Linked DNA regions of Homo sapiens: all the other regions are linked to region 1. Evidence: fine-mapped expression QTL. A gene starts in region 1. Each other region holds a variant in brackets. All regions are shown on one strand. Distances are from middle to middle. Region 1 holds the start of MINPP1 (multiple inositol-polyphosphate phosphatase 1). Region 2 has its middle 47 kb from the start of PAPSS2. Region 3 overlaps NUTM2D (NUT family member 2D). Region 4 overlaps SHLD2 (shieldin complex subunit 2).

Evidence for each region. PIP is the estimated chance that this variant, and not a neighbour inherited with it, causes the effect.
Region 2: its variant is fine-mapped to the expression of MINPP1 in whole blood (TOPMed, PIP above 0.99).
Region 3: its variant is fine-mapped to the expression of MINPP1 in breast (GTEx, PIP above 0.99).
Region 4: its variant is fine-mapped to the expression of MINPP1 in whole blood (TOPMed, PIP above 0.99).

The regions. Positions count from the first base shown.
Region 1 is chr10:87,500,793-87,508,896 of GRCh38, reverse strand. It overlaps MINPP1 (multiple inositol-polyphosphate phosphatase 1), which reads right to left and starts at 4,004. Exons shown (of 5, transcript NM_004897.5): 1 at 3,345-4,004; 2 at 364-561. The coding sequence starts at 3,981. It overlaps MIR4678 (microRNA 4678), which reads right to left and starts at 5,016; the gene lies at 4,943-5,016. It overlaps LOC112268064 (a long non-coding RNA gene), which reads left to right and starts at 4,063. Exons shown (of 2, transcript XR_002957094.2): 1 at 4,063-4,562; 2 at 8,079-8,104. RefSeq lists enhancers at 3,725-3,784, 3,945-4,034 and a cis regulatory region at 7,895-8,104.
Region 2 is chr10:87,608,881-87,616,984 of GRCh38, reverse strand. No RefSeq gene overlaps it. Among named protein-coding and RNA genes, the nearest start is that of PAPSS2, 47 kb to the left of the region's middle. The variant C/T (reference allele first, on the strand shown) is at 3,673.
Region 3 is chr10:87,363,787-87,371,890 of GRCh38, reverse strand. NUTM2D (NUT family member 2D) reads right to left here. Exons shown (of 7, transcript NM_001382304.1): 4 at 7,513-7,652; 5 at 6,688-7,070; 6 at 6,086-6,202; 7 at 4,696-5,752. The coding sequence ends at 4,967. Among named protein-coding and RNA genes, the nearest start is that of NUTM2D, 10 kb to the right of the region's middle. The variant A/G (reference allele first, on the strand shown) is at 4,618.
Region 4 is chr10:87,150,323-87,158,418 of GRCh38, reverse strand. It overlaps SHLD2 (shieldin complex subunit 2), which reads right to left. Exons shown (of 10, transcript NM_001330112.2): 3 at 5,540-7,069; 4 at 264-371. The coding sequence starts at 7,064. LOC124902475 (a long non-coding RNA gene) reads left to right here. Exons shown (of 3, transcript XR_007062222.1): 3 at 1-239. It also overlaps the pseudogene RN7SL733P. Among named protein-coding and RNA genes, the nearest start is that of SHLD2, 59 kb to the right of the region's middle. The variant G/A (reference allele first, on the strand shown) is at 3,796.

The sequences.
Region 1 (8,104 bases):
AGCTAAAGAATTTATATGATTTTTCCATTTGTATCACTTTATCAGGGGGAAATTCAGAAAAGATAATTTGTTTTAAAAATAATGCCTACAGTTGAGGCTTTATATTACTCTGCCCTCAAAAAAACTCCAGAATATAACTAGAATCTTGTACAGTAATTTAAATAACACTCAAAGAAGAATATGAATCTAAAAATGGTAAATAGTAAGCACAAGGTATACAATTTTTTTGACCCAGAACATATTATTTTCTTAATGTAGATCAATTATGGGTCTTTAAAAAAGACTGTTTCCTTATGTTTTCATTTTCACAGTTCAAAATTATTTAAACTGTTAAGTTCAAATAAAAGACAACAGACATATTACCTGCATTTAAATCATTTACTGGCACTTGCAAAGTAGCTGCAACTTTTTTTAAAATGTTCTGCATTTCTGGTCCAGTTTTGAAGGCTTCCACGTGATAAAGAGCTGTAGCATTTTTTTCTACTTCAGTTAAAAACTTCTCACAGTGATCAAAAAATCTCATTAGTTTATCATTAACTGTTGGAGGTCCAAACTCCATATCTGAAAGAGAAAAAAATTTATATGTATTTGTAAATCACTGACATAAATGACAGTTTCAAATTATTGAAAATGTTAAGTGTGAAAAAGGAACACTAACATCTTACTAATCCGCACAGCTGAAATAAGCACATATTGGTCAGGAAACTCTTGGGGTAAAATTATTCCCCATTTATAATGGCTGTAACGCATGAGAATAGCTAGAAAAGGCTAAAGAAATAGAGATTGAAGATTAAATGTGTTGTAGAGATGCTACGCAATGAAATTGCATCATACATTAATAAGTACTGTTTCTGTCAGGCACGGAAAACTTTAGAAAGCAAACTAAAAATCAGCAAAGTTTCTACTTACAAGGTGAGAGAGAATTCAACATATGGAATCTATTTTTTCACTCTAAGCCAAAGTCTAAACAGAGTATTTTATTTTCTCAATTAACCTTCCCAACTCTGTATTACTTTACAAAGATTCTGCTTTGGACAAAAACTACTGACAGCAGCACAAAACGCACTGATGTTTTGGGTCTCCTGTGCTTCACTGTGCTGGGCCTGTGAATTGGTTTATCTTTTAACTGAAGCCCCAGATAACTTTCTATATAAAATTTAATAAATTACATTATGCCCCCAATTGGGCAACAAATATGTATTGGAGAAGCATTCATAATCATGCTTCAACTACTGGTGTGCCCTTTACGTTTTTTTCAGTCATATTCAAAACACACATTTTTCAATCATTTCTCCAACAATTTACCACGAAAAGAACACCAAGTATATCATTTTTGTACATAAAATATGAGAAAATTGAATATAGTTTTATCTGGGCTTTGGATGTGTATGCAAAAAAAATCAGTATGTATGTTTGTTTCTCTTGAAATGGATAATTCTGCCCACTTTGTCAACTGGATTGCAATTCTTAAGAAAATATCTTGACTAGGAAAATAAGCGAACTTTGTCACCTTTTTTCTGTGTACACTAAAATATAATTTCCCAAGTGCATCTGGGTATTTTATCCTTGTTACTATCTAATTATTGCTAGTCTTTAAACAAAAACAAAGGCATTGTTCTGTTTCTACAAAACTACAAATCTAATTCAGCAGACTCCCTCAAAAGACCAGATGTACATAATAGGCAAAACTATTGTCTATAGAGAATAATAAAGTGGCTAGGCAAAGGGTTTGCTATCTGACACTGAAAACGGTCAGGAGTGGGCTTATTCTGAACTGTAGTATTTTCATCCCTGGCTCTGTACTGAGAGTCAAATGCCAGTCTTCGCAATGCCATCTGAGAACAAAAATTCACTTGTTCCAGGAAGTCGCTATAGATATTGTGTTATATTAAAATATGTTCTGCTTTCACCATTCTGTTAATTTAACAGATTTATGAGGAATTTTCACTCATGCTAATGGAAAAAGTATATATTTAAAAAAAAACACAGTTCAACAAGTAATTAGACACAAGTCAGCTAACTGAATTACCCACAATAACATGACACAGAATCAGTGGAGAAATCCCTTACAGATGGTTTCACTGTTCAACAGCTACAGAAGAAATTACAAACCAGCCTACTTCTAATTTTTCACTTGGGCTTTGAAGCTAAACAATAATCCTCACTTCAATTCTGGCCTTAAAAGTGATCAAGAAACTATTAATGCTTGCTCATCTCTGTGGTACAAAAATGTTACATGTTTTTATTCTTATTAGGTATGTTATTGGACAAATGGAGGCAGTATAGCATAATGGCTAAGAAAGCAAGCTCTGAATCAGATTTCCTGGGTCCACAGCTAGCTGTATGAAAATGGGCAAATTATTTAATGTGTTCGTGTATCAATTTCCTCATCTTTGAGATAAGGGGAAAATACTATCAACTCCAGATTGTGGTTGTAAGGATTTTGTAAAATAAATGTGAGGCATACCTGGCATACAATAGGCATGAGGTGTATGCTATCATTATTATTTGTAACTATTACAACATTTTCTAAGAGAAAAAGAACCATTCTAGGAAAACAGAAGACTTGGATACTAGACCTTAGAGAAAGACAATTAAGAAGGCATACTCTTGGGCTCGGGTTCTTCACCTGTGAAATAACGGGGCCTTACTAGATGATTTCTCAAATTTCGAAAAAGTGTAATTAATGGAATAAATGAGTTGTTACTGCTTGTGACCACGGACCACAGCTACAACGATGGGAACGCTACAGTAAAAACATGAACAAAACAGAAGAAAAAAGGAGGACACAAAGGCTTGAGATCAGGTTCCTAAAACAGGGTGTAGGTCTAAAACTGTCATCTGAAAAAGATGATGAGTTTAAAAAAAAAAAAAAAGAAAGAAGGAAAAACTAGTATCGGAAGCAAAGCCCGAGGAAGAAAATTCTAGATTCTGTTTTTTAAAACGTGCGCCCAATTGTGAAACTAGACGCCAGGGAAGGGGGAAGGGATGGGTTGGCGCTCGAAGGGGCAATTCAGTTTGGGAACGGGAGCGCAAAAATTGCGGGAGACCTCGTCTGTCCCCTTTCCTGTTGGATCCCCAACTCTACTAAAGCAGGCAGCGAGTACAAGGTGCTGAATTTACACCTGATGAATTAATAAATGAACATACGTGTAAGGGGAAAAAGAGATAGCCAAGTCTGTAATATCCCTCGACAGGGAGGACGTAGCCCGAGGGATGATGGCTTGGGAAAAGAGGAAAGAGAACTGGGGGGCATCGGAAAAGCCCAGGGTCTGGGGGAGGCGGGAGAGCATCCAGGGCGGGTGGGAGGACCGGGACAGCACACGGGCCGCCCGGGGGGTCACCTGCGACGTCCGGCGGCGGCAAGCCAGGGTGGTAGTGCTGCCACAGCCCCTGCAGGAAGGCGGCGCTGCTATCCATGCAGCGGTGCTTGGAACTGGTGATGAGCCGCAGGCGGCCGTAGTTCTCACGGCTGAAAAGGGCCGGGAAGAGCGAGGCCAGACGCAGCGCCAGCTGTCGCATATCCTGCCGTCCCTTCTCTACTAGCTGCCCGTCCATCCAGTCCGCGTACCACAAAGGCCAGTCGGCCAGCGCTGCACCCAGGTCGCGGCTGCCGGTACTACTAGCCCCGCCATCCCTGGACCCGCGGGCCTGCAGCAACCCGTGCAGCTGCCTCAGCTTGCGGATCTGTTTGACCGTGGGGTAGCGGGTGCCGTGGCGAATGAGGGCGACCAGCTGCACCGGGGTGCAGGTCCCCTCCAGCAGCTCAGGGTCCCGCCACGGAGCCTCGGGGCCCGACAATAGCACGGGGTTGACATCCTCGTAGCGAGTCTTGGTGCCGAAATAGGGGCTGAGCGACGAGGCCACCGGGTCCCTCGGCTCTAGAAGAGAGCAGCGCGCAAGCGACGAGAGCAGCGCCGCAGCCAGGGCCGCGGCAGGCGCTACGGAGGTCCGGAGGAGGCAGCCGGGCGCGCGTAGCATCGTCGGGACGGTCAGTGGAGTGCGCCGAGCCAGCTGCAGATGCCCAGCTTCCGGCTCCGGAGGGCAGGGGGCGGGTCTGGAGGGCGCTTCCGGCCGGCGGCCCTCGGGATGCGCTTCGCTGTTCTCTAGGAGGTACCAACCTCTGGCGGTGGGTCTTGCGTCCCGGCGGAAAGCTCCGAGGAGTCCTGTAGACTTGTGGCTCGGGTGGAGCCGGCGGAAAACCCCGAGAAGCTTGAGACAGCCGTGGCTGAGGTGGAGCCGGCGTCGCTGCCCTGGAGCGTGGGCGAGTTTCCTCTTAGCCGGAGCTTCAGGGATTGACTCAAAGACTCCTCCGCTTTTTTAGTTGTTTTGGGTGTGAATACAGCCCGGACTAAACCTTAGTCGCCTAGACTAAACCTTAGCCTCCCAGGCTGCCAAAACAGCACAGCTTTTACAGATGACTCTTACATCACCATCCCTACTCTGTGATACTGTGTTTTTCAAAGTTTAGTGCCTGAACCATCAGCATGAAATCTGCCTGAGACGGTTGTTGAAAATTCACATCGCTGGGCCTTGCGGCAGGATGCCTCTTGAAGCCCAAGGTTTTTGTTTCGTTTTTTTCCATTTGAGTTTGAAAATAAACAGGATACAGTAAAGCAGAGAACTTGGAAAGGGGCTTACATTCTGCAGGAATTTAAGTCCTGAATCTTTGGTATAATCTTGACCTGGACTACCAGAGCTAACGCCGACATCAGTGAGACAGCACCCTAAAAGTTCTGTGCTTGTTGTTCCCGAAGGCTTAGCGAGTAGAGACATAGCAATCTAGAGAATTTGGGTGCATTGAGTCATGGCCCAACAGATTTACTCTATTATTAAGTATGAGCTAATCTGCTTTGCGAAGCAAACATGCTCTGTATTTACCACCACTCCAGATCCATACGTTCCTCCCATGTACTTACTTACATACTCAAATCAAAAGCTGGGTTTTTTAATAGGTTATTGCTCAGAATCTTTGACCCCAAAAATCATAAGTCTGAACAATACCTTGTTTTTTCCCACTTGAACTCCAGTTTATTTGCCAGCTGGGGAAATAATAAGTATTACAGAAGTCGTACGGTGATCCAGATTTAAGGAAATTGGGACCACGTTTTCATTAAGTTAGCTTTTGCTTCAAAGACACTATTACATTGCTCTTTATAAGCCCATCACCATCTTTACTCCTTTTCTCTTTAAGTGTCTCCTTGGTTTAGAGAGGTGTTCCTCTAAGTTTAGGCGTGCCTCTAAATGTTAACCAAGAAGAAACGGGGCCAGCCTATGAATGCTGAAAATTTGGAGACGTTCTGTGCAGGAAACCATCTTTAGGGCAACAGATGTTCTTTTCGATATGCTATTTTGTAGCATGTCAATGCCTGAATATTCATGGTCAGTGATATTTTTGTAGAACTTTGCTCAAATTAGCATTTAGTAAATATCCGCTCCTTCTTAAAATAGACATTCTAACCCGTATGCTCTATAGGCTGAGTCGCCTGATAATATTTCTAAGTGCATTCAGCGAGCATTTGTTCCAGGTTCATCTCACTGTATTTTGCCTAATACATATGCTTACTAATAACTTCTCACACCCAATCTTTTGAGTCCTAGGGGTTACCAAGTGTTCCCAAAGTCATTATTCACTTCTTCCTTATGAAGCAATCTTTAGAGACTCCACTTACAAAATGTATGGCACAGTACACATTTTTATACATGAAATTTGCCCCTAGTTTGATTTTATTTTCCTTATCTAATTCCTCATCAATTAATTTTATCCTGTTTTATACACTTAGGTATATCAGCTCCTAATTATTTTGATGTTATGCCAAGATAACAATGATAAAGTAAAAGTAAGCAATGCCTCCATGTTTTTGGCTAGGAAAAAGCCAAATATAAAGAAGACGAAGAGTGCTTAAGCTTTGGACCCAGACTCTAATTAGCTCTGCTGCTTATTAATTGAGTGACCCAAGTTCTCTGGGCCTTAGTTTTTTTTTTTTATCTGAAAATTGGTAATATTAGAACCTATATCATGGGATTATCATGACAGAGATGATGTATTTAAAATCCATATGATAGGCCGCTATAAATGATATTTTTATCATTACTAATGTTCAGTGTGATTATTCCTGTGCTAAGATGCCTAGCTTTCTAGCAATTACATGGATTACACTTACTCCCACTGAACATTAAAGTGAATGACTTTCACAGGCAACACATGCATCAAAGATCATTTCATAACTTTTCTAATAATAAAAATCCACTCATTTCACTTAAAATGGATATCTTGTTCTTAGAGCACTAAGCAGCCTTTGAAAAAATTTAAAAAGGTCACAGGCCGTGCTCCTCATTTCATGCCAGACCATGTCTGAATTATCTGGGCACTCTGTAAATTGGATGCCCTTTGACATAGGTGCCCACTTGGTCCAATCATGTAGTACAGAGAAGTTTGCATAGTGCGAAACATGGCTATTCCTTTGCAGAGATCATGGGAACATCACCTCCCCTCATAAGAAATTGTGGGTATGGGAGCAATATATTTGGCAAATCTAACACAATACAAGAGGCAGAAAGGAAAATTAATGGTTCAAGGTCCTTGCAGAGATGGGAGAGGACAGAACCAAAAACACAGGTAGAGAATTTGATTTGGGCCAGAAGGAGATGAGACCTTATCTTCTAAGAGAATGTTAGAAGGATGGGTGAACATGGGGATAAATTTGTAGATCTGGCAGGAGAGAGTTCATAGAATTCAAGTCTGATGGCCTCAGTTTCCACAGTAACATAGGAGACAAGTTTGAAAGATGGGGGAATAGGAATTAAGTCTTGAAATGTGAAAATGGTTTGGATTTGCAACTGAGAGAAATGGGAAAGTAATGGGAAAGGATTGACAACTAAGAGGAATGGGAGAAACAAGTAGAAGTTTGTATGGTCAGCTCTGGAGATCCAACTGAGAATGAATTGCTAGTGGTTCTGCAATTTTATTTAGAAGCAAACATTATCTGTTGTATTTTTTCAGAGTGGAAAAGAAAAAAAGTTTAACTTGATGGTCCTACATTAATGGGTCTTGAGTAGAACTTCATTTCTAATCAATCCACTATACGAAAGGATAAGCTCAATTATTTTTGCCAGATTATCCATAGGATTTCAAAAATAGTCATTCAGCTTTTAAGATTGCATGGTGTCAGCCAGGCACAGTGGCTCATGCCTGTAATCTCAGCACTTCGGGAAGCTGAGGTGCGTGGATCACCTGAGGTCAGGAGTTCGAGACCAGCCTGGCCAACATGTTGAAACCCCATCTCTACTAAAAGTACAAAAAAATTAGCTGGGTGTGGTGGTGGACGCCTGTAATACCAGCTACTTGGGAGGCTGAGGCAGGAGAATTGCTTGAACTTGGGAGGTGGAGGTTGCAGTAAGCTGAGATCACGCCATTGCACTCCAGCCTGGGCAACAAGAGTAAAACTCCATCTCAAAAAGAAAAAAAAAGATTACATGGTGTCATATATAGTATTTTAAGTTAACAGCCATCTACTTTACTTTTAAAGAGGTTACTAAGATAGTTTTCTGGGGATGAAACAATAAAGGAAAGGAAACAGCTAAATTCTGTAGGGAAACAGCAAGGCTCTCTATGTAAGCATATACAATACTAAGAACATGGTCTCAGAAGTTAGACTTTCTGGTTTTCAGATTCCAGCTTCATCTCTTATTACCTGTGAAATATTTAAAAAATTAAATTATTTTGCCACCATTCTTTTTCATTGTAAAGTGGGGATAATAATACCTAGCCATGAGACTGTTGAGAGGATTAAACGAAACAGCTTATATAAAGACTTTATATAGTTTCTGCCCCCAAATAAATATCAGTTGCTTTTATTAAGCAGAATTAAAGGGTTTCTTATTATCACGTCTCTCTTAAATAAACTGACAAATAGTTTTTCATAGATATTTATTATCTCATAACTACATTAAGCAACGAACTTTGTGCCTATGCCAGGAAAGTTTGAGCTTTCTTATCTTTCTGCCCTGCTGTTGCATCATTCCTCTTTTAACAGTTGCCAGATGTTGATTTAGTGTTTATTGGCTTTTTGTTGCAGTGGAAGCCAACAGAAGAGGGGTCCAT
Region 2 (8,104 bases), 110 kb before region 1:
CTGTCCCTCTGCCTGGAACAGCATATGCAACTTTCTTACCTACCTCACCCTACCAGTCCCTCAGCATAGGTGACATCTCTTCTAGGAAGGCTTTCTGGGCACCCAAGATTGCTTAGTGCCTCCTTACCTGCTCCCCTATTGTGATCCTCCTCTGAAATGCCCACCAGATGGGTAAAATCCACTTACTACCACCCTCCAGGCACAGTTCTTGGCTGTCGTCTTCCTGAGGGCAGGGTTACCACAGTCTCTGCAGTGCTCAACCCTATGCCAGCAATTGCTAGCAATTATAGTAGCAACCATAATCATTATGACCAAGATACTCAATTAGTTTTCTAGGGCTGCCATAACAAAGCACCATAAATTAGGTAGCTTAAAACCACAAAAATTTATTGTCTCACAGTTCTGGAAGCTGGAAGTCCAAAATCAAGATGTTGGCAGGGCCATGCTCCCTCCAAAACCTGTAGGGGAATCCTTCCTTGCTCTTCCTAGCTTCTGCTGGTGGCCATTCATCCCTGATGCTCCTTAGCTCGCAGCTGTGCCACTCCAGTCTCTGCCTGTATCTTCACAAGGCCTTCTCCCTGTGTGTCTGCATCTTCACATGGCGTTTGCCTCTTCTAATAAGGGCACCTGTCCTATTGGCTTACAGCCCACCCTAATGACATCACCCTAACTTGATTACATCTGCAAAAACCCTTTTTTCTAAATAAGGTCCATTCACAGGTACCAAGAGTTAGGACTTCAACATATCTTTCTAGGGGACACAATTCACCCCATAACACTGAGAGCTTGGCATGGGCAGGTGCTGTTCTCAGTGTTTCACCAGCATTCACTCCCTTAATCCTGACGACACCCTTGTGAGGTAGCTGTGATCACCATGCCCACTTGATAGACCAAGAAATTCGGGTAAAAAGAGGTGAAGCAATTCACCCACGTTTAAATTTGTATGCAATTTTGATAAGCTGAGAAGGTGGAACTTCTCTTTTTCTTGCCTTTCTTCCTCTTCTTTTCCTTCTTGAGTAATTAGAGGGCTAACTTGTAGGAACTGCATACATAGTGCTCCTCAAACTTTAATGTGCCTATGAATCACCTGGGATGTTGTTCAAGGGTAGATTCTGATTCAGGTCTGAGGTAGGGCAGGAGATTTAGCTTTCCCAAGTAGCCCCCAGGTGCTGCAGTTACACTTTGGCCACACTTTGATTAGAAAGATCACTTGGTTCCTAAGTACTAGTGCTATCAACCATTAGGGTGCTTTGTTTATTTATTTATTTTATTTTATTTTTTGAGACAGGGTATTGCTCTGTCACTCAGGCTGGAGTGCAGTGTCAGGATCACGGCTTACTGCAGCCTTGATCTCCTAGGCTAAAGGGATCCTCCCACCTCAGCCTCCCAAATAGCTGGGACTACAGGCACACCATGCCTGGCTAAGTTTTTGTATTTTTTGTAGAGACAGGGTTTCAACATGTTGCCCAGGTGGTCTCGAACTCCTAGACTCAAGCAATCTACCCACCTTGGCCTCCTAAAGTGCTGGGATTACAGGTGTGAGTCTGTGCCTGGCCTGGAGTGCTTTTTAATTACTACTTCTCAGGCCTCACTTAAAACCTTCTGACTCAGAGTCTCAGAGGCAAGACATGGAAATCTGTATTAGCCTTTATTTGAAAAGAGGTGATTCTTAAGGGCATCTAGGTTCGCAGACTACTGGCCTCGACAAACTAAATGTTGATTTGAATTGGCCTGTTATCATCTTGATCACATTGTAGTTAAGAGCAAGACATTTGAGTTAAATGATGGTAATTAGGACTTCAAAACTGGTTTAACTACATCCAAAAAAATATGTCAACCCAGAGGCAGTCCCTTAGATGAGTGGTCTGATCCTGCCTTGGGGAAGATGTAAGTGCCTGACTTGGATGCAATCATATGCTTATCAAGTTCGAACGTGGCAAAAGACTGGATGGGAAACCTAATGCGATTGCTAAAAGAAAATCAAGATTTAAGAGAGCCTTAATAGGTTCAGACATTGAGTCAAAAGAGTAAGATTAGAAGTGGTTATAACAGGGTATGTCAAGTTTATAAAATGAATTGTAGAAGTAAAGGATGGAGAAACCTGATGCTATGATTTGGATGTTTGTTCCCTCCAAATCTCATATTGAAATGCAATCCCCAGTGCTGGAGGTGGGGCCCCGTGGGAGGTGTTTGGGTCATGGGAGCGAATCCCTTACAAATGGCTTGGAGCCTTCCTCATGATAATGAGTTCTCGCTCTGAGTTCACATGAGATCTGGTTACGAGTATGGCACCTTCGTTCTCACCATGAGAGGCACCTGCTCCCCCTTTACCTTGATCGTAAGCTTCCTGAGACCTCACCAAAAGCAGACGTTGGCACTACACTTCCTGTACATTCTGCTGGATTGTGAGCGAATTAAATCTCTTTTCTTTTTAAATATGCGGTCTCAGGTATTCCTTTATAGAAACAAAAAAACGGCTCAACACACCTGGCTTGAGAACTATAGTATAATTAAACTAAAAGTATAATGCAACAACCTAAACATCTCAAGTGATCTTAATCTGTATTTCTACTAATACAAAGAAGGTGACAGTCTCAGGGCTCCCTCAGGGCTCTGCCTGGCCAGAGCAGAGGTGGTGTACCATGTTCACATTGGGATGCCATGTAGTAAGAGTGGCAGTAGGCTGCACCCTGTGGAGAAAGATCAGGTTGGTGAAGCAAATGTAAGTCATGGCCCCCAAGACATGGACGAAAAAATTAATACTACCTTGGAAGACAGAAGACAAAAGAATACTTGAGCCCCATCTGAAAATACTTGGGAGCTTGTTATCTGAAAGAGAATGACCTTGTTCTAAGTAGCTTCAAACAGGCAGAAGCAGGATAAGTGGATGGAAGCTGCAGGGAGATAATATTTTAGCCAGCATATATGGGAGAACATTCTAAGACCTGACCTGATTGATGGTGAAATAAGATGCTTGAGGAAAGATTCAACTCTGTGTTCCTTTAAGTGTTCAAGGAGCTGCGTCATGGGAAAAATTCTTTTCACTCTTTGCAAGGCTGGGATACATGGCCTCTTAAACACTTCCAGCTGAAAAGGGTCTGTGATTCCAAAAATGTGCAGAAAAAGATGCATTCATATACTATCAACAGTCTGCCTCATCTCCCAGAGGGTTTTTATTTTGTTTTCCTCTTTCTTAAAAATAGAAATAATTATGTCCGAATGTAAAGTCCTTCCTTTTTTTTTTTTTTTTTTTCCCCTGAGATGGGCTCTTACTTTGTCACCCAGGCTGAAGTGATGTGATCTCAGCTCATAGCAGGCTTGGTCTCCCAGGCTCAAGGAACCCTCCAGCCTCAGCTTCCCAACTAGCTGGGACTACAGGTGTATGCCACTTTACCTGGCTAATTTTTTGTGTTGTTGGTAGAGATGGGGTTTTGCCATGTTGCCCAGGCTGGTCTGGAACTCCTGAGCTCAAGCAGTCTGCTTGCCTTGGCCTTCCAAAGTGCTGGGATTATAGGCGTGAGCCACTGCACCCAGCACAGAGTCCTTATTTTAAAGTGCTTTGATATTGCTGAAAATAATATTTTGTCATAAGAAGAATTTCATTGTTTTGCTCATTTTATTCTATATACTGATCAAGTACCTAATATTGACAATAATTAATGATGATAATAG[C/T]TAACATATAGTGCTACTTGTCAGTCACTGGTTTTAGCACATATTAGCCCATTTAACCATTGCTGCAATCCTATAAACCAGGTGATAGTATTATCCCTATTTTACGGATGAGGAAACTGAGTCACAAAGACATTAATTAACTCCCTTGAGGTCACCCAGAGGCCTCAAAGAGTAGCAGAGTCAGGATTCAAACCCAGACAGCCTTGCTCCGGGATTGGTACTCTGAACATCTATATTGTATTAGTCTGTTTCCATACTGCTAATAAAGACATAAGTGAAACTGGGTGATTTTTTTTTTATTTTTTCGACGGAGTTTTGCTCTGTCGCCAGGCTGGAGTGCAGTGGCACAATCTCGGCTCACTGCAATCTCCACCTCCCAAGTTCAAGCGATTCTCCTGTCTCAGCCTCCTGAGTAGCATGTGGCACCACACCCAGCTAATTTTTGTATTTTTAGTAGAGATGGGGTTTCACCATGTTGGCCACGATGGTCTCAATCTCTTGACTTCATGATCCACCCACCTTGGCCTCCCAAAGTGCTGGGATTACAGGTGTGAGCCACTGTGCCCGGCCAAGACTGGGTAATTTATAAAGAAAAAGAGATGGCTGGGGAGGCCTCAGAATCATGACAGAAGATGAAGGAAGAGCAAAGGGACATCTTACATGGCGGTGGGCAAAGAGAGAATAAGAATCAAGTGAAAGGGGTTTCCACTTATACAACCATCAGATCTTGCGAGACTTATTCATGACCACAAGAACCATCATGGGGGAAATCACGCCATGATTCAATTATCTCTCACTAGGTCCCTCCCATAATGGAATTATGGGAGCTATAATTACAGATGAGATTTTTATGGAGACCCACCCAAATCATATCATTCCACCCCTTGCCCCTCCCGAATCTCATGTCTTCACATTTCAAAACCAATCGTGCCTTCCCCACAGTCCCCCAAGTCTTAACTCATTTCAGCATTAACTCAAAAGTCCACAGTCCAAAGTCTCATCCAAGACAAGGCAAGTCCTTTCCACCTATGAGCCTGTAAAATCAAAAGCAAATTATTACTTCCTAGATACAATGTAGGTATAGGCATTGGATAAACACAGCTATTCCAAATGGGAGAAATGGGCCAAAACAAAGGGGCTAAAGGCCTCATGAAAGTCCAAAATCCAGTGTGGCAGTCAAATCTTAAAGCTCCAAAATGATCTCCTTTGACTCCATGTCTCTCTCACATCCAGGTCACACTAATGCAAGAAGTAGATTCCCATGGTCTTGGGCACTCTGCCCCTGTGGCTTTGCAGGGTACAGCCTCCCTTCTGTCTGATTTCACAGGCCGGCATTGAATGTCTGTGACTTTTCCAGGTGCGTGTTGGATCTACCATTCTGGGGTCTGGAGGATGGTGGCCCTCTTCTCACAGTTCACTAGGCAGTGCCACAGTGGGGACTTTGTGTGGGGGCTTGAACCCCACATTTCCCTTCTGTATTGCCCTAGCAGAAGTTCTGCATGAAGACTCTGCCCCTCCAGCAAACTCCTGCCTGACCATCTAGGCGTTTCTACACATCCTCTGAAATCTGGGCAGAGGTTCCCAAACATCAATTCTTGACTTCTGTGCACCTGTAGGCTCAGCACCGTGTGGAAGCTGCTAAGGCTTGAGGCTTGCACCCTCTGAAGCCACAGCCTGAGCTGTACCTTGGCCCCTTTTAGCCACATCTGGAGAAGCTGGGACACAGGGCACCAAGTCCCTAGGCTGCACACAGCGGAGGGGTCCTGGGCCTCACCCATGAAGCCATTTTTTCCTCCTAGGCCTCTGGACCTGTGATGGGAGGGGCTGCCACAAAGGTCTCTGACATGCCCTGGAGATATTTTCCCCATTGTCTTGGTGATTAACATCTGGCTCCTTGTTACTTATGCAAATTTCTGCTGCCAGCTTTAATTTCTCCTTAGAAAATGGGTTTTTCTTTTCTGTCACATTGTCAGGCTACAATTTTTCTAAACTTTTATGCTTTGTTTCACTTTTAAAACTGAATGCTTTAAACAGCACCCAAGGCACCTCTTGAATGCTTTGCTGCTGAGAAATTTCTTCCACCATATACCTTAAATCATCTCCCTCAAGTTCAAAATTCCAAAAATCTCTAGGACAGGGGCAAAATGCTGCCAGTCTCTTTGCTAAAACATAGCAAGAGTGACATTTACTCCAGTTCCCAACAAGTTCCTCATCTCCATCTGAGACCACCTCAGCCTAGATTTCATTGTCCATATCATTGGCAGTATTTTGTTTAAAACCATTCAACAAGTCTCTAGGAAGTTCCAAACTTTCCCACATTTTCCTGTCTTCTTCTGAACCCTCCAAACTCTTCCAACCTCTGCCTGTTACCCAGTTCCAAATTTGCCTCCACGTTTTTAGTTATCTTTACAGCAGCACCCCACCCTAGTGGTACCAATTTACTGTATTAGTCTGTTTTCATGCTGCTGATAAAGATACACCCAAGACTGGGTAATTTATAAAGAAAAAGAGGTTTAATGGACTCACAGTTTCATGTGGCTGGGGAGGCCTCACAATCATAGCAGAAGATGAAGGAAGAGCTAAGGGGCATCTTACAGGGCGGCAGACAAACAGAGAATAAGAATCAAGTGAAAGGGGTTTCCGCTTATAAACCATCAGCTCTTGTGAGACTTATTCACTACCATGAGAACAGTATGGGGAAAACCGTCCCCATGATTCACTTATCTCCCACAACATGTGGAAATTATGGGAGCTACAATTCAAGATGAGATTTTGGTGGGGACACAGCCAAACCATATCATATACCAAACTACCTTTTTCTTTTTTTTTTTTTTTCAGGTGGAGTCTTGCTCTGTCACCCAGGTTGGAGTGCAGTGGCACGATCTTGGCTCACTGCAACCTCCACCTCCTTGGTTCAAGTGATTCTACTGCCTCAGCCTCCCAAGTAGCTGGGATTACAGGCATGCACCACCAGGCCTGGCTAATTTTTGTATTTTTAGTAGAGATGGGGTTTCACCATGTTGGCCAGGCTGCTCTTGAACTCCTGACCTCAGGTGATCTGCCTGCCTCTGCCTCCCAAAGTATTGGGATTACAGGCGTGAGCCACTGTGGCCAGGCCGAACTACCTTTTTCATATTACATAAGATACAGTCTTAGATCTGACTGTTCATTAGGCACAATGCCTAGAACAGTGGTCCTCAACCTTTTGGCACCAGGGACTGGTTTCATGGAGAACAATTTTTCCATGGACCAGGGTGGGGGATGGTTTTGGGATGATTCAAATGCATTACATTTGTTGTACACTTTATTTCTGTTACATTGTAATATATAATAAAATTATACAACTCATGGTAATGTAGAATCAGTGGGAGCCCTGAGCTTGTTTTCCTACAACTAGGCAGTCCCTTCTGGAGGTGATGGGAGATAGTGACAGATCATCAGGCATCAGATTCTCTTAAGGAGCACACAACATAGATCCCTCACATGTGCAGTTCACAATAGGGTTTGTGCTCCTATGAGAATCTAATGCCACCCCTGATCTGACAGGAGGTAGAGCTCAGGTGGTAATGCGAGCGATGGGGAGCAGCTGTAAATACAGATGAAGCTTCGCTCACTCACCCACTGCTCACCTCTTGCTGTGTGGCCCAGTTCCTAATAGGCTGATACTGGGCCTGGGGGTTGAGGACCCCTGGCCTAGAACTCCACAATACTTTTAGGGGCCCACCAAAATGTTTTAATTTCTTTTAAAATCAAAAGAAAAAAAGTGAACTTAGGGTTAAAGAAAATGTTTTTTTTTTCTTCACACCAGAAGAAAATAAAACATTTAGAGCCCATGAAAATGGATGATGGAGTGCAGGGGCCCACAAAGGCAAAGTACATAAGGCCCATGAAACTCAGTATGTGGCCCTGACACTTTTACCTGCAGTGAGTTTTGAAACACATTTCTTGGAGTGTTTTAAGCTGACCTTGCCATCAAGCTGGTGCTCTCATCTGTGGTGGTGATACGGGGGAAGGAGAGTGCTGAAGAGGGTAACTCTGGTGCAGGCAAGGACATTATCAAAGGTATGGAGGCCGGCAACCCAGTGTGAATGTGGGGAGCAGATGAGTGTGGCAGGTCAGAAATGATTTACTCAGTTTCTTCACTGGAAGAATTGGACCTCTAGAGAATCGTTAGGGAAAGGCAGTTTGAGTTAGGGCAAAAGAGTACAAAATCCATTTTGTACTGGAGAAGACAACCTTGTCTGGAAAGGGAAATAATTTCCATAGAGTCTGGTGAACAGAGCCTGAGGGGTTGGAAGCAATCCAAACTGTTTGTCAGGAAAATCACATTCACGCTGGGCTGGTAGGTGAGAAGAAGCAGCGGCTGCTATTTTGCAATGCAGATGTAAAACACTTCCTGGAAATGGAAATAAAGCAAGCAAGGAAGCATATC
Region 3 (8,104 bases), 140 kb after region 1:
TCTATTTACAGATTATATGGTTTTATATGTAGAAAACCCTAAAAATTCCACCAAAAACCTGTAAGAACTAATAAATGATTTCCGCAAAGTTACAAAATGCAAAATTAACACACAAAAATCCATTGCAGTTCCATACATTAGCAATGACCAATATGGAAAGGAAATTAAGAAGAAAATTTCAGACCAGGTGCGGCAGCTTACACTTGTGATCCCAACATGTTGGGAGGCTGAGGCAGGCGGATCACTTGAGGCCAGGAGTTTGAGACCAGCCTGGCCAACATAGTGAAATCCTGTCTCTACTACAAAAACAAACAAATAAACAAACAAACAAACAAAAACAAAAAACCCACAATTTTATTTATAATAGCATGAAAAAGAACAAAATACTTAGAAATAAACTTAACCAAGGAGGCAAACAACTTGGACACTAAAAATTACAAAACAACAATGCTACAAGAAATCAAAGAGTATATAAATAAATGAAAAGACATCTCCATGCATGTGGATTTGAAGACTTAATATTGTTAAAATGTCCATATTACCTAAAACAATTTACAAATTCCATACAATCCCTATTACAGCATTATTCACAGTAGCCAAGAGATGCAATCCAAATATCCATTGGTGGATGAAAGGATAAAATATGGTATATACATACAATGGAAGACTAAGCAGCCTACGGAAAGAAGGAAATCATGTCACATGCTAGAACATGGATCAATCTCAAGAACATTATGCTAAGTGAAATAAGCCAATCACAAAAGGACAAATACTTTCCCTTCATATGAAGTATTTAAGGTAGTCGAAATCACAGAAACATAAAGTAGTGGTTGCCAAGGGCCGGGGGTGGGAGTAGGGGGAAAATTAGTATTTAATGTGTACAAAATTTCAGTTGTGAAAGATAAAAAATTTCTAAAGATCTAAATTTCACAATGATGTGAATATACATAACATTACTAAATTGTACAATTTAAAATGTTTAAGATGGTTTTTAAAAAAGGAAAAAGCATAGGAATAAATTTCATGACCTAAGACTAGTTAACGGTTTCTTAAACATGACATCAAAACCACAAGTAACAAAAGAAAAAATAGATAAATTGGACTTCATCCAAAGTAAAAACTTTTGTGCTTCAAAGAGTACCATCAAGAAAGTAAAGGACAACCCACAGAAGGAGAATATTTCTGCAAATTATATCTTGTAAAGCATTTTTATCTGGAATATATAAAGAATTCTTATAACTCAATGACAAAACACAAACCAGTTAAAAATTACTAAATGTTGAGTACACATTGCTCCAAAGAAGATATACAAGTGGCGAATAGGTACGTGAAAGAGGTTCAACATCAGAGAAACACAAATGCAAACTACGATGAGATGCAACTTCAGAACCACTAGGATGACTTTATCAAAAAGAGAGTTGATAATAAATGTTGGCTCGAATATGGAGAGACGCTGGGACCCTCACACAGCTAGTGGGTATATAAAATGGTTCATGTACACTGGGAACAGTCTGGCACCTTCTGAAATGGTTAAACACAGAGTTTCCATATGGTCCACCAATTTCACTCTTAGGTATGTAGCCATGAGAAATGGAAACATACATCCCCAGGAAACCTTGTACACAAATGTTCTTAGAAGTGTTATTCACAATAGCCAAAAAGTGAAAAAAACCCAAACGTTCTTAACTGATAAATGGATAAATTTTAGTATATCCATTAATGGAATATTATTCAGCAACAAAAAGGTTTGATGTAATGATACATACTAAAAATGTAGATGCCATTGGAAATATTATTCTAAGTGAAAGAAGACAGATGTGAAAGACACACATTGTATATTCCATTCATAGGGCATCATGCAACGCTGAAGTTAGAATCAAAGTGAGCTACAAAAGGGCAGCCACCTGGATCAAGTCCATCCTCATAGCTGTCAGAAAGCACAGCATGTTCACTAACGGGGGCAAGCCTTGCTCACGTTGTCAGATGGAGTTTCCCAGGAGGCTATGGCTTCTTCGGGGATCTGTCATCCAATGGTGAAGGGAGGGGTCTCTGGAGGCAAACCTGCCAGGGGCCACCCCAGCCGCACTGGTTCCCAGAGAGTGACCTGGGTGTGTGAGCAGGGAGGCCAAGCCGACCAAGAGCCTCAGCACACCCCCAGCACCTGCTGTGAGCAAGCTGCATGGCTTCCCCAAGTGTGGATGCGATGACATCATGGGTATTTACAGATTCCTTTTCACTGTGTCCCAGGCTCTCCTGGTTCATGTGTGATACACTGCACTTGGGGTGGAGGTGTGCTGACAGTTGTAAAGGGCTGAGCCTTTCTTTCCCGTGGCTCTGATGCACGGTTTCCAGATACCAGTCATGAAGGAAGTTCTTGAGATTATGGACTTTGTCCTAGTCACATAGGGCTGCTCGGACAAAGGGCCATAGACTTGGGGGTGGTGGCACATATTAAAAAAAGAAATGTATTTGTCACAGTCTGGAGGCTGGAAGTCCGAGGTTAGCATCCCAGTGGGCAAGGTTCTGGTGAGGGCTCTCTCTCTGGCTTGCAGATGGCCGCCTTCTCAGTGTGTCCTCGTGTCAGGGAGAGAGAGAGCTCTGGGGTCTCTGCTTCTTACCAGGGCCCTAATCCCATCATTAGGGCCCCACCCTCATGGTCTCTTCTAACCCTGAATAACTCCCAAAGGCCCCATTTCCAAATACCATCACGTTGGGGGTTAGGGCTTCAGCACAGGAACTGGGCGGGGGACGTATGTTCAGTCTACCAGAGCCCCCCAGTCAGCCCCACTGTGCCCATTTAGGGGCAGATTGTAGGGCTCAGGTGGGACACAGAGGTGGAGGAAGCACAAGTTCTGCTTCCTAGGAATGGCTCAGCCAAGACAAGGACAGGGACAGTGGGATAGACAACAGCCAGTGGGGTAACCAGCAGGAGCCCCAAGGTGTCACTTTCACCCTTAGGTGAGGAAGTTGGCTGGGCACCCACACACGCCAGAGTATGGACCATGTTCCCTTCAAACACGGCTCACTTAACATTCCTAAACCCTGCAAAGGGGCAGTGCTACCTTATCTCCTGAGGATGGCCGTGAATGTAGAGGAGTCACGGGAGCTGCCCACATCACCCACCAGTGACTCTTCGCTCCCCACATTTTCCCCGAGGGCCTGACGTGCACTGAGCTGGGGAAGCCCTGCCAAGATAAACTCTCCTTCCCAAAGGCCACAGAAGACAGCAGGCCTCCGACACTGCCCACATCGAGCAGAAGGGACGGGGCAGAGGGGCATCTGTCAGGCTGACTGCTGTGTTCTGTGGGCAGATGGGGCCAGAGAGGACCCAAACATGGCTCCCTTTGTCACTTGGCCGAGGGGCCAGGCCACCGTGTACCAGACAGCTTTGCCCCACCAGCCTCTGCTGCTGGGCCAGCCCCCAGGGCCGTGACCACAGCTCTGCACGCAGGCAGTGCTGGGACCAGTGCCCTGGCAGTCACAGGGGTCCTGAGCCAATAAGCGCCCTGGGGGAGGAATCAGAACTCAGACCGTGGAGAAGAAGGTGTTGGCCAGGAGGGAACCAGGGTGGGTGCCGGGTCCTGTCCACGCTGGGATCTGAGATTCTAAGAGGTGGGTTAGGGGTAAGGGGGGCAGAGTTGGCCCATGGGGTGAGGGCAGTTCAGCAGAGATTGGGAAGACAGGACAACCTGGGAAAGAGCAGAGCATCCTCCCCAGCCTCGGTCCCTCTCCTGATGCAGTCCTCATCTCACTCATAGACTCTGGAAGTCTCCCTTTGGCGAACACCTAGCCCCCAACTCCCAGGGCACTTCCCAGACAGCCAATGCCACATCCCAGGCAGCCCCTGCTCTGCCCTTGGGGTCTGTGCCTGGCAGAAGGGCGGCTGACCCTCGGCCCCTCTTGGCCTGGGCCCCAGCTCCTCCGGGCCCTGGAACCAGCAGAAACCCCCACCCTGCGCCTGATGGACTGGACATGCTTGTTCCCATTGGTGATGGTGTGTTGGGAGGGAACTGTTTTAGAAACCAATGTAAATCTGTGTCTACATCAATTCCACATGAGTTCAGTCATCATATGGGAAGGGAATCATAGCTGTGGGGGGCTCCATGCAGGACCTTGAGGGCCCCGAGGCCAGTCCCTGTGGCCACAGCAAGGAGCATCTGCTTTAGCTAGTTGGACAAGACTCTCTCCTGCCCAGAAACAGGCAGAAGGACTTCCCCTGCTCCCCACCCATCATCGTATCCCAAACACACCTGTGTGGATGGTCACCTCAACGTCTCCCCTCAGCCCAGTGCCCGCGCTCTTCCTGATGAGGGTTAAGCAGGAGCAGCCTCCTCTCCCCATGTCCATGTTGCAGGCGGCTGCCTTCTCCTCAGCTCCCACCGAGCAGAACAAGAGCCAGCCAGCTCTCTCCAATCCCAGGATTTTCCAGGGATGCTGATAACGATGAGGGGGCCCCAAGAAGCCTCCCTAAAGCAGGCAGGGCCTTGTGAGTGGGTGGTGGGAGGGATCAGGGCTTCCTCAGCATCTGTCAGTCCCTGGAGCATCTGAAGGGGCTCCCTACGTCAGGAGGAAAGAGTGGGGCCGGCCTCTGTGGGTTCCCAGAGCCTGGCATCTGCC[A/G]GTTCCTCTGCCCTCCCTCACAGACACCCTCCACGGAGCAGCACAGCACCGAGGACAGAGGCAGCAGCCCCAAGAGCATTTTCCAAGACAACTACATTTATTCACACTTACACACGAGGCCCCCAACACACTGCTTCCCACCCCCACTCCCCAGCCCCTTCCCCCCAGACCCTCCCTTCCTGCCCTCCCCATTCAGGCCACCCTCTCCCTCCCCTCCCTCCCCTACCCTCCAAAGCTAAGGCCCAGCAAGATCAGCACTGGGGGAGAAGAAGCTTTTGACCGCTTTGGGGCATCGGATGCCAGAGCCCCATCCTTGGGGATCGGCCCCAGAGAGCCTGCTCAGAAGCCCCTACTGGCTACAACGCTGCTTCTTCTCCTTCCTGGAGACCAAGGGGTCACCCTTTCTCTTTTGAGACTGTGAGGGGCCACCCAGCCCCCAAGTCAGGGATTGCTCCCCAGAGACCCTGAGCCCAGGCCCTGGGTGGGGTGTCTTTTCAGCAGGGGACAGGCTTCCAAAGAGAGGTCGCTTCTTGGCCTTGTTGGCAGGAGAAGGTGCTAGGTTGAGGCCTCTTCTCTCAGCAGATGGGGACTGATGAGTTCCCTGGGGTCCCCACTTTTCTGGGCTGAGAAGGCCCGAGGCAGGGACAGGGCTCTGGGGTAGCCACCAGGGCAGAAGCTTGTGCTGGGAACCCAAGAGGAAGGCCAGGCTGGGGAGTTCCTCCTCCTCACTTGACCCCTGAGCCAGCCCATGTGACTCCCTGACAGGAGACCCTCCAGGGAGATCCAAGGCATCCTTGGTACCCACGCCAGGGCAGGTGGGTCTGTGGTCCTGGGGAGGAGAGGTTGGCCGGGCAGCCCTCAGCCCAGGGGAATCCTGACATCCCAAAAGCACAACAGAGTCTTTGGACCTGGCCATGCCAGTGTGTGCTCTGCCTCGTCCCTGAGAGTCCCGGGCAGTCGTCTGGGGTGGGCAGGTTTCCATGCCAACCCCTTGTTGGGGGTCAGGGACGTCTCTCTCTGCTCCTTGGCCAGCTGCAAACTTAGAAGAACTTGAGTCCAACCGGGCTGTGCCACGACTAGGGGCTGCCCTCGCATGCTGTTTCTCCTTCAAGGGTAGGAGGCGCTTCTCCACTAGCTGCGGGAGGAAAGGGGGCACTTACGGGCACTGCCCCAGGTGTGAGCGGGGCCCAGGGTGGTGGAGACCAGGGCACTTAGGCGGCAGGTAGGGAAGCCTGAGGCAGCTGGGCTTTATGTCAAAGAGAGAGGGTGTGGCTCTGCCGGGCCTCCCGTTGGGCCTCACCACAGCTTGCATGCTGACTCCCCTCCCTGGCTCCTGTCCATCCTACTCCCTCTGAACCTGCATCTTCCCACTCCAGAGTGGCTCCCCAAGAAGCCGAGCATCCCCAGCGGGGGGGATTAGACAATCAGGTGGGCCTTGTGTGCCAGGTCCCTCCTGCCCCTGGGGTACCTGGGCAAGGGTGAGTCCTTCCTCCTGCTCCAGCTCCTGGCTTAGGGCCAAGAAATCCATCTGTGGATCTGGGGAAAGCAATTCTTCCAGGAATTGGGGATGAATGACGGCCTCCACCTGGAAACAGAAGGAAGAAGGCGTGAGCTTCCTGGGCAGGGAGTAACCTGGAGCCAAGGACACCTGGAGGAGATGCAGAAAGCAGCGAGCGCCCCGTCCCCACCCTCCTGGGGCTGTCTCATATCATGGTGACCACCAGCTACAGACACAGACCACAGACCTGGTAGCTACACACACACAGACAGAGACACACAAACCACACACAGACACACAAACAGACCCACATATGACACAGGAAAAGACACAGACACAGGTAACGTACACACTCCACACTCACACCCACACAGACACACAAAGACACACAGTAACAAACCACAGACACAAACACACAGCAACACACAGACACACACAATCACATACACAGACACTCAAATCCTTGGAAATACACACACTGCTGAGTAGCTAAGGAACAGAGCTTAATTCCAAGGACCTGGGAGTGCCACCCCCTGGAATCCAGCAGACCCCAGCACTCCAGGCCAGCCCACCTTGGTGACGAAGTCTTTCTGGGAACACAGCTTGTCAGTGTAGCTCAGGAGGCCCGGGTCTGGGGGCGTCCAGTCCTCTTCCTGTGGCTGCTTCACTTCGCCCTCTTCCCGTTGTTTCTCGGGCTCCCCCGTGGCCCCGAGAGAAGGCCCCAGCAGCTCCTCCATGATGTCCACATACTCCTGCACCACTTCTGGGGGGATCTCCTCAGGGACCTTGGTCTCTGCTGGTCTCTGGGGCCTGGGTGGTGGCAGGCGGGCCTTGGTCTCTGCTCGCCGGTGGGGCCGGGGTGGTGGCCGGCGGGCCTTGGTCACTGGCCTCTGGGGCCTGGGTGGTGGCAGGCAGGCAGTCGGGGCCTTGGGGCCGGCCTTGCTGGGAAGGTACACTGAGGCAGAGAGGGAGGAGGACGGGCGTGGTGAGGGCCGCTCCTCCTGCTGGCACCACACAGGGGAGGGCAGGGCTTGGGGATGTGAAGTGGGTCCCAGCTGGGTCAGGACCACCTGAACCGCAGCACCCCCGGAGGAGGCAGGAGGGGCACATCTGAGACAGCATCGCTTGGGAGGAAGTTTGGAGCCACCAATATGCCGTGTACTCTCCCCGCTCATCCCTGCTTCCTGGGCAGAGCATATGTGGAGTTTTGGACAGGCGAGGGGAGAGAGTAGCTAGGAAACTTGACCAGGTCAATACCGAACATATGCTCCTGGAAACTGTCCTGTTGGAGGGAGCAAATCCCCCTCTCGAAGGGAAGCATGGGGTGTGGGGACAGTGGCCTCCCTTGGCCCCTTTGGCCTTTGCCATGGCTCCTGTGGGAATGTGGGAAGCCATACCTGGCTGCTTGACCACCTCAGGGGCCGGGGGTCCTCGAGGTTCAAGCCTCGGTGTGGCTGGAGGAGGCAGGCACTGGGGCCCCTTCATCCATTGCGATTTCTGAATCTGCATCTCCTCCTCAGCCTCAAACTCCAGGAACCTGGCGGTGAAGGAGGCCCAGGCTGTGCTGAGAGGGTCCAGGCCCCCTCCCCCCAGGACCAGGCAGCGGCCGAGGGCAGGGATGGGAGGGAGTGCCTCGGGTGGGCTGTCCAGGCCCTCACTGTGTCCCATCCCCCAGTCCCAGGAGAAAGCTGCTCCCAGAGTTCTGGGCTCACCCTCCCTCACCCGGCCCCTGCAGAGCCCATGGCATCAACGGGGCTTCCTGACTCAACTCAGGGCCACGAGGTCCAGGAGGGTCTCGGGGGACCCCTCCTCCAGGTTTCAGCTGGCCAGGGGTGGGATTTATGGCAGAAGGCATCAGGGATGATGCCCAGATGCAGGAGTCCTGAGGCTAGGACTGTGGGCCCCTGAAAGATAACCCAGGGGCACGAGGCCTGGGAGACCCCTGGTCAGGAGGAAGCAAAAGCTGAGCTCAGAGGACAGGGCCCCTTT
Region 4 (8,096 bases), 350 kb after region 1:
CCCTAAAAGGTGAAGAACCACCACTATACTGATGGCCTAAGAAAACGAAACATGAGACCCAATACTTCTTAAAATAAATGTGATTTACAATGTACAAGTTCATTTCTTAAAATTCTATTTTCATTCTTACTAATGAAAAGAAACCAATACTCTCCAACTGTTTAGAAAACATTTTGTAAAAGAACCATTTTAACCCTAATCTTTCCTAGTATGTTTTTATACTTTAAACACTACTACATTACTTCATTTAAAATGTGCCTTACATTCTTCAGGCTGAATAGATGAATAACTCCCAAGATTTAATAACTGACTGCTAAATGTTGATTGTAGTACTGTCTCGCCAATCCATTGGTCCTCATGAATAACAACATCTAGAGAGAGAAAAAACGTTCTGATCATGCCATAAATTCCTTCACAATGTGGTTAACCTACTAGTCACAACAAAATACTATGCATGCCTCCCATATACCAAGCAAGTAGAGATCAAATAGGTTAAATAACCTGCCTAAAGGCACGAAATAAGAAAACAGCAAATCTAAAATCTAAATCTAGGTAAATTAACAAAATTGCTTCTTTATATTCAAATGATAGCAGTATGGAAGTCCACTGCTCTATATAAAAAAGGCTTAATAGTTTTTATTTACATAAGGAAAATGTTATCATGTATATTTCTGATACATTAAAAATAATTTTTTTTAGGACCAGAAGGCAAAGTAGTGGTTCCAAAGCCGTAGTGCCTAGGAGAGTAATAATATTCAGTATGCACTGGTCCCTTCTACTATAAATATATCTGAATATAAGGCATTCTTAACACACTTGATTATTTTTCCCTAAATAGCACTATAATTATCTTCCACATAAGTTAAAAGTGAAAGACTTTGGAGGTAGGGAACATTTTCCAATTGGAAAGAGAGAGCTGTATATCTAAGACGGATAGAGTAGAATCAGGTAGAACTAAACATACCAACAGGTAGAAACAATTGTAGGTAGAGCAAAACGTGTGAGCTGTAAAGAGAAAGAGGGGAAGGGAGCTATCTCTAAGGCAGGATCTAATCAGCATACAGTGTCAGAGGTATAAACATATATTAACAATAGTGAAATAATGTAGAGATAATAGGAAAGAAAACCAAGGATGTATAAATTCCAAGTGATTACTTACAGATTTAGATTCCAGACCCTTTCCTCAGCTTTTGAACCTTTTACCTACAACTGCCTAATGGAAATTCCCACCTGGATATTCCATTGGCTCCCCAAACTCAGCAATGTCCAAACCTGCTTTTCCTTTCATAGCGCCCAACTCATTTGTTGACGCTATGCTGCTAATCAAGTAAACTAACATCTGAAGTCATCTTGCCTCTCCCTTCCCACTCCTTGCCACCAGCCCCCACCTACCCCTCTGCTGCTTAAATGTGCCCATGCCCCACCACTACTACTGTTTTACATTACACATTCCTTTCCCTCCCAACAGGTGCTTGTCCCGCCTGCAACCCATTTCTTACAATGCTAATGAGTCATTCATCAGAGCATTAATGAGTTCAGGCGAGTGATATATCAGAGCATTAATGAGTTCAGGTGACTTACTAAAAAACAGTGGTTCCCCACTGCCTAGCCAGGAAGAGCTAGTACAGCATTCAAGACTTTTCATGATCCAACATTCAGGATGCATGTTCTTCAGAAAAAAGGAACAGACGAGAAATTTCAAGGAGAGCATTCTGAAAGCTAGGACTGTGAAGCATATGTTGGATTAGTGACATGGTAATCACTAGTGGTGCATGGAGGGGATGGGTAGCCCGCCCTGGCCTCCTGGCTCCTTCCTACCCTCTCACTGACATGCCCCAGCTCCTAGTCCTTATTCTGTTTGTCCTTTAAACACTGTTGTTTCCCAATGTTAAGCCTCCCATCTTCTTCTAATTCTAGTCAGTAGTCTCCCTTAGGTAATCCTTATTTTTGGCATCTCTTCATTCTATTGCTAGAAGTTATAATAGCAAACTGTCTGCTGTGTTGGTATTCAACAAGGTCTGGAATACATCTGTTACTTAAAATTTTTCAGTTTGGGCCGGGCGCGATGGCTCACGCCTGTAATCCCAGAACTTTGGGAGGCCGAGGTGGGCAGATCACAAGGTCAGGAGTTCGAGACCAGCCCGGCCAATATGGTGAAACCCTGTCTCTACTAAAAATACAAAAATTAGTCAGGCGTGGTGGCGGGCTCCTGTAGTCCCAGCTACTTGGGAGGCTGAGGCAGGAGAATCACTTGAACCCAGGAGGCAGAGGTTGCAGTGAGCCGAGATCGCGCCACTGCACTCCAGCCTGGGCAACAGAGCAAGACTCCATCTCAAAAAAAAAAAAAAAAAGGAAGATTTCTGTTTGGGGGTATATATCAATAGGTAGTATGAACTACCCAGGCTATCCAACTAAGTTCACTGCCTCATTAGGACAACAGAAAAGTGTAGATTTCTTTTTTTTCCCAACATTTCCATCTGTTCCACACAAAAGAAACTTATTCAGAAATAAGTGAACTAGGTCCTCTTTTTCTTAAAAAGACAAAAAAATCTGATTTTTAAAAAAAATGTTCATAGAAATCATCTAAATGTCTTATAATAGGAAAATGGTTAAGTAAATTGCATTTCAGCCACCAGAGAGAATGTTACCTCGTTGTTAACAACTATAGAGATGTTAGGAAAAAATACAGAGATTGCAGAGTTGAGTTTACACCTACCTAGGAAAAAGGAAAAGGCCCCTGAGAGGTCCCTGCTGACATTAATTGCCTCGGTAAAATGACCATGGTCCAGGATCCAGCCCTCTTTTACAGTCTGGGAAACTTAATTTTGTTAACACTCCAAAACTAGATTTCAGCTCTGCAACATAAGCTCATACTAAATCAACTAATGAAACAAATTAAAGAAAAAAAAATTTTTTTTTCATTTACAATGAGGCATTAATTGCCCAAAAAAACAGTATTTCAGCCTGTTCTCATGCTGTGGGCAGCTCTACAACTAGAAAGCCAAATCACAAGCAAAGAGGTATTCAGCAAGCACTGAATCAGAACAGAGGGAGTTAGGTGAATTGAATCTCCAATAATATAATCACATATAAATAATATTAGCTAATACTGCCAGTGGGATGTGGCTATGCTAAGCCTGTTCATTACAATCTTGTGTTTACCTCTTTATAAAAGATTGTACTCGGCCGGGTGCGGTGGCTCACGCCTGTAATCCCAGCACTTTGGGAGGCTGAGGCGGGCGGATCACGAGGTGAGGATATCGAGACCATCCTGGCTAACACAGTGAAACCCTGTCTCTACTAAAAATACAAAAAAATTAGCCGCGCGCGGTGGCAGGCGCCTGTAGTCCCAGCTATTCAGGAGGCTGAGGCAGGAAAATGGCGTGAACCCGGGAGGCGGAGCTTGCAGTGAGCAGACATCGCGCCCCTGCACTCCAGCCTGGGTGCCAGAGCCAGACTCCGTCTCAAAAAAACAAAAAAGATTGTACTTGACAATCCTACAGGAACACCAAGGTACATTAGCTAAGGTTCTCATTCCTCCTGTAAACTATTTGGTAGGATTATCAATATTGCTTCGAAGTTTTCTTCTTCTAAATACCTCCTCTGTATCACATTCTTTCTTTAGATATTTTATTAAGCTTAATCAACTTCCTCCTGCTCTAATACACCATGTGTCAATTTTAAATCAACAAAGAACATGTAACACAATGTTAGATGTGTTCGGTGAAAACATATTCTGGCCAGGCACGGTGGCTCACACTTGTAATCCTAGCATTTTGGGAGGACAAGGTGGGC[G/A]GATCACCTGAGGACAGGAGTTCGAAACCAGCCCGGCCAACATGGTGAAACCCCGTCTCTACTAAAAATACAAAAATTAGCCAGGCATGGTGGCTTACACCTGTAATCTCAGCTACTCGAGAGGCTGAGGCAGGAGAATCACCTGCACCCAGGAGGCGGAGGTTGCAGTGAGTCAAGATTGTGCCACTGCGCTCCAGCCTGGGTGACAGAGCAAGACTGTCTCAAAAAAAAAAAAAAAAATATTAAATATTCTCTCTGGGTGCAGCGGCATGCGTGCCTGTAGTCCTGGCTACTTGGGAGACTGAGGCAGGAGGCTCACTTGAGCCCAGGAGTTCAGAGTTGTAGCCGATCAGGTGTCTGCACTAAGCTTGCCATCAATATAGTGACCTCCTGGGAGTGGAGGACCACAGGTTCCCTAAGGAGGGGTGAACTGGTCCAGGTTGGAAACAAGGGCATGTTAAAAATACCATGGGCACGGTGGCTCACGCCTGTAATCCTAGCACTTCGGGAGGCTGCGGCAGGAGGATCAATTGAGCCCAGGAGTTGGAGATCAGCCTGGGTAATGCAGTGAGACCCTGTCCCTATTAAACAAACAAACAAAAAATTAAAAATAACAATTTAAAAATTCTCATGCTGATCAGCAATGGGATTGTGCCCGTGAGTACCCACTGCACTTGGCAACATAGCAAGACTCTGTCTCTTAAAAATAAATAAATTAAAAATTAAAAAAACAAAATGTTCTTTATGGTTACAACTATATAGTAAGAGTATAAATTCTGGAGTCTAGGAGAAACTATAGCTTTGCCACTTCCTAGATGTATGACATTGGACAAGTTACTTTACTTCTCTGGGCTTCAGCTTCCTCAACTGAAAAGTAGGGATAAAAATCAGTACCTTCCTCATATACTTGTTGTAATGAAATATGCATGTAAAATCTAAAACAGGGTCTCACAAACTAAGCTCCCAATAAATATGAGCTTCTATGTGTGATATATACACACATGCACACACATTTTAAGGAGAACAGAGAAAATAACTGGAAGGCAACACTCTAGAACTCTATTGGTGGTTATATGAAGTTGGTATAATACCAGTTTTTTCCTTTCCATATTTCCAAGTGTAATTAATATAATTTTGATAATAAGGCAATAGAAATCAATAACTGTTCCCACAGTAAAAATACAATGTGCACAGCATTATTAGACATTAGGTAAAGAAGCAGAAAGGTCTAACTCTGTTGCTCGGGCTGGAGTGCAGTGGCCCAATCAAAGCTCACTGCAGCCTCAACCTCCTGGGCTCAAGCAATCCTCTCGCGTCAGCCTCCTGGGTAGCTGGGACTACAGGCACGCAAACCTTAATTTATTTTTTGTAGAGACGGGTTCTGTGTTGCCAAGGCTGGTCTCAAATTCCTGGCCTCAAGCAATCTTCCTGCCTCAGCCTCCCAAAGTGCTGGGATTACAAGTGTGACCCACTCCACCTGACTAGGGAAGGCTTATTAAAGGAGGGGATAAGTGGAAAGAAGGGACAGAGCTGAGAAGGATAGAACAGAGGCCCAGAAGTGGCAATGGGCAGGAGAGTGGACAATGGAAAGGAGAACAATGCAGATGCGATAAAGGGATCAATTATGCTGCGCTCAGAAGAGGCAAATGACTAAAGAGTCTTCAAAGACTAAGTGGGAGAAAAACAAAAACAAACAAAACTTAGCTTTATAAAATAAGCTACCACTATACCATAATGACCTCACCTGTGAGTAAAATTATATCTCCAAGAAACACTGTAAATGCCCAAAATGCTGCAGTCCTCCACAGAAAAACCTTCTTCTTAGTTTCTGATTGATCAATTACTGTAACTGTTGCTAAAGGCACTTTAGAGCCAGAATTTGGTCCGAATTTTATGTTTATTTCCTTCACATGGCATGGAGATAGCACCATGACTAAACAATTATACTTCTGGCTTTTAGAATCACAGTTTTTTATTAATGATGTTTTTTTAATACTCTTAAATTCAGACACATTTCTCCGATCCATTTCTACAGCAGAATCTCCTCCATTAGAAATCAACTTCATTTTCTTAGCTACTTGAAGGACTCTAGATAGAGCTTCAGACTGGCCCACTTTATCTTCAGAGGTACAGCTTCTTTTAATAGCACTTTTGTGGAAGGTATTTAGTTGGGAACACAGTATTCCTGAGCTACACAACTCAATACGTATCTCATTTGGTGGCAGTTCATCTTCAGAACTGAAAAGTTCTTGAGATCCTGTATGTTCTTCAAGACCTTTATCAGAGTTTATGTGAATGCGGCTATTTTCTGTTTTAGGACAAACAGGACTAAAAAGTTCAAGGGAATATGCTTGGTTTTGTCCACTTTCATATGCTTCTGTAAAACCATCAAGCTGAATCGAATTCTCTTCAGGTATTCTTATCTCCCCGTAACTTGCCTTTGGTTCAGTCTCCATGTTTACATTCCCTTTATTTACAGGACTCCGCCTTTTATCTTTCTTTTGAGCTAAAAAAGCAACCTGGCTGGAGGTAATTATACTGAGAAATTCTGTATCAGTTGATATTTTAAGGTCTGAGACCTTCCTAACTGCTGCTTCAGACCTTGACTTATCTACTGCGTTCGAGGAAAATAATCCCAAACACTGGTTTTGTATTTCATGATATTCTGTTGGCACACACTCTCTTTGTACCACTTCAGGCCCTATATTAATTTTTTCAGTACTACAAACCAAATCCAACACAGCTGCACATTTATGGCCCAACTGAAACAAATTTGTGTTAAAGTTCTTACCACATATATCTGGCTGATGTTTAGGCTGTTCATCTCTAATTTTATTTTCACTGAGAAGCTTTTGATACTTTTCTTCTTCGGTGAAATGCGGAACTGTGCTTTTAAATCCACATATTTGCATATTAGAGCTAGTTATATCACTCAGTCTAGAGGAGTGAATCTTCTGGGATTCTATATTCTGTGTTTCAGAAACAGAACGTACAAAGTCATCTTTCACATGAACATGTCTATTCATACAGTTTGCTAAGAAATGACCACTAAGATCTGGAGAACCAATAGATTCTGGGACTTTATAGTTTTCAAGATTTTTGTGCTGTTTTTCATCCTTCAGATATAAAGAATGTTGACTGTATAAAAGCTGAATTTTTTTCCAGGGGTCAGCAACAGACATTAAAGAAGCTGTGTCTTCTGATACTGTGATTTTCAGTGGAGCAATTGGAGCACCCCAAAAAATGTGGACTTGAGATCCTCCACTCATGATTTCTGATAAAAATGAAAAATCCAAAATTAATATATTGTCAGCATATTTTTGCATATGGATATTAACTTAATAATGTACCAAAAGAAAATATAACTGAGTCAAAAACATAATTAACATAGGTGATTTTTTTGATATGCCATTTAATTATATAAAATTCATAAATACACAAGAAATTATTAAGGAGAAATCACAATATTCACAAAAATTTTTCACCTAAAGACTCACTTTAGGCCGGGCGCAGTGGCTCACACCTGTAATCCCAGCTCTTTGGGAGGCCGAGGCGGGTGGATCACGAGGTCAGGAGATTGAGACCATCCTGCCTAACAGCGTGAAACGCCGTCTATACTAAAAACAAAAAATTAGCTGGGCGTGGTAGCACACGCCTGTAGTCCCAGCCACTTGAAGGCTGAGGCAGAAGAATCGCTTGAACCCAGGAGGCGGAGGTTGCAGTGAGCCTAGATTGCACCACTGCACTCTAGCCTGGGCAACAGAGTGAGACTCCATCTCAAAAAAAGACTCTCTTTAAGGGGAATAAAGCTAAGCACACTCACATCAAACAAGTAAATAGGTTTTTAGTATGTTTGTTTCATTTGAGATGGAGTCTTGCTCTGTTGCCCAGGCTGGACTGCAGTGTTGCCATCTAGGCTCACTGCAACGTCCGCCTCCCAGGTTCAACCAATTCTCCTGCTTCAGCCCCCTGATTAGCTGGGATTACAGTCTGTGCCACCACGCCCGGCTAATTTTTGTACTTTTAGTAGAGACGGGGTTTCACCATGTCGGCCAGGCTGGTCTCAAACTCCTGACCTCAAGAAATCCACTCGCCTCTGCTTGTCAAAGTGCTGGGATTACAGGCGTGAGCCACCGCGCCTGGCCTGTTTATTTCTTATGTTGTAAAAACTTGCCCCATTTAAATAACAAGTTAGTAAAGAATGGGAAAAGAGGCATTTGTTTAACTATATTACAGTCACCTTTAAATTACTCATTTTGGGGCAGAGCACAGTGGTTCATGCCTGTAATCGCAGCACTTTG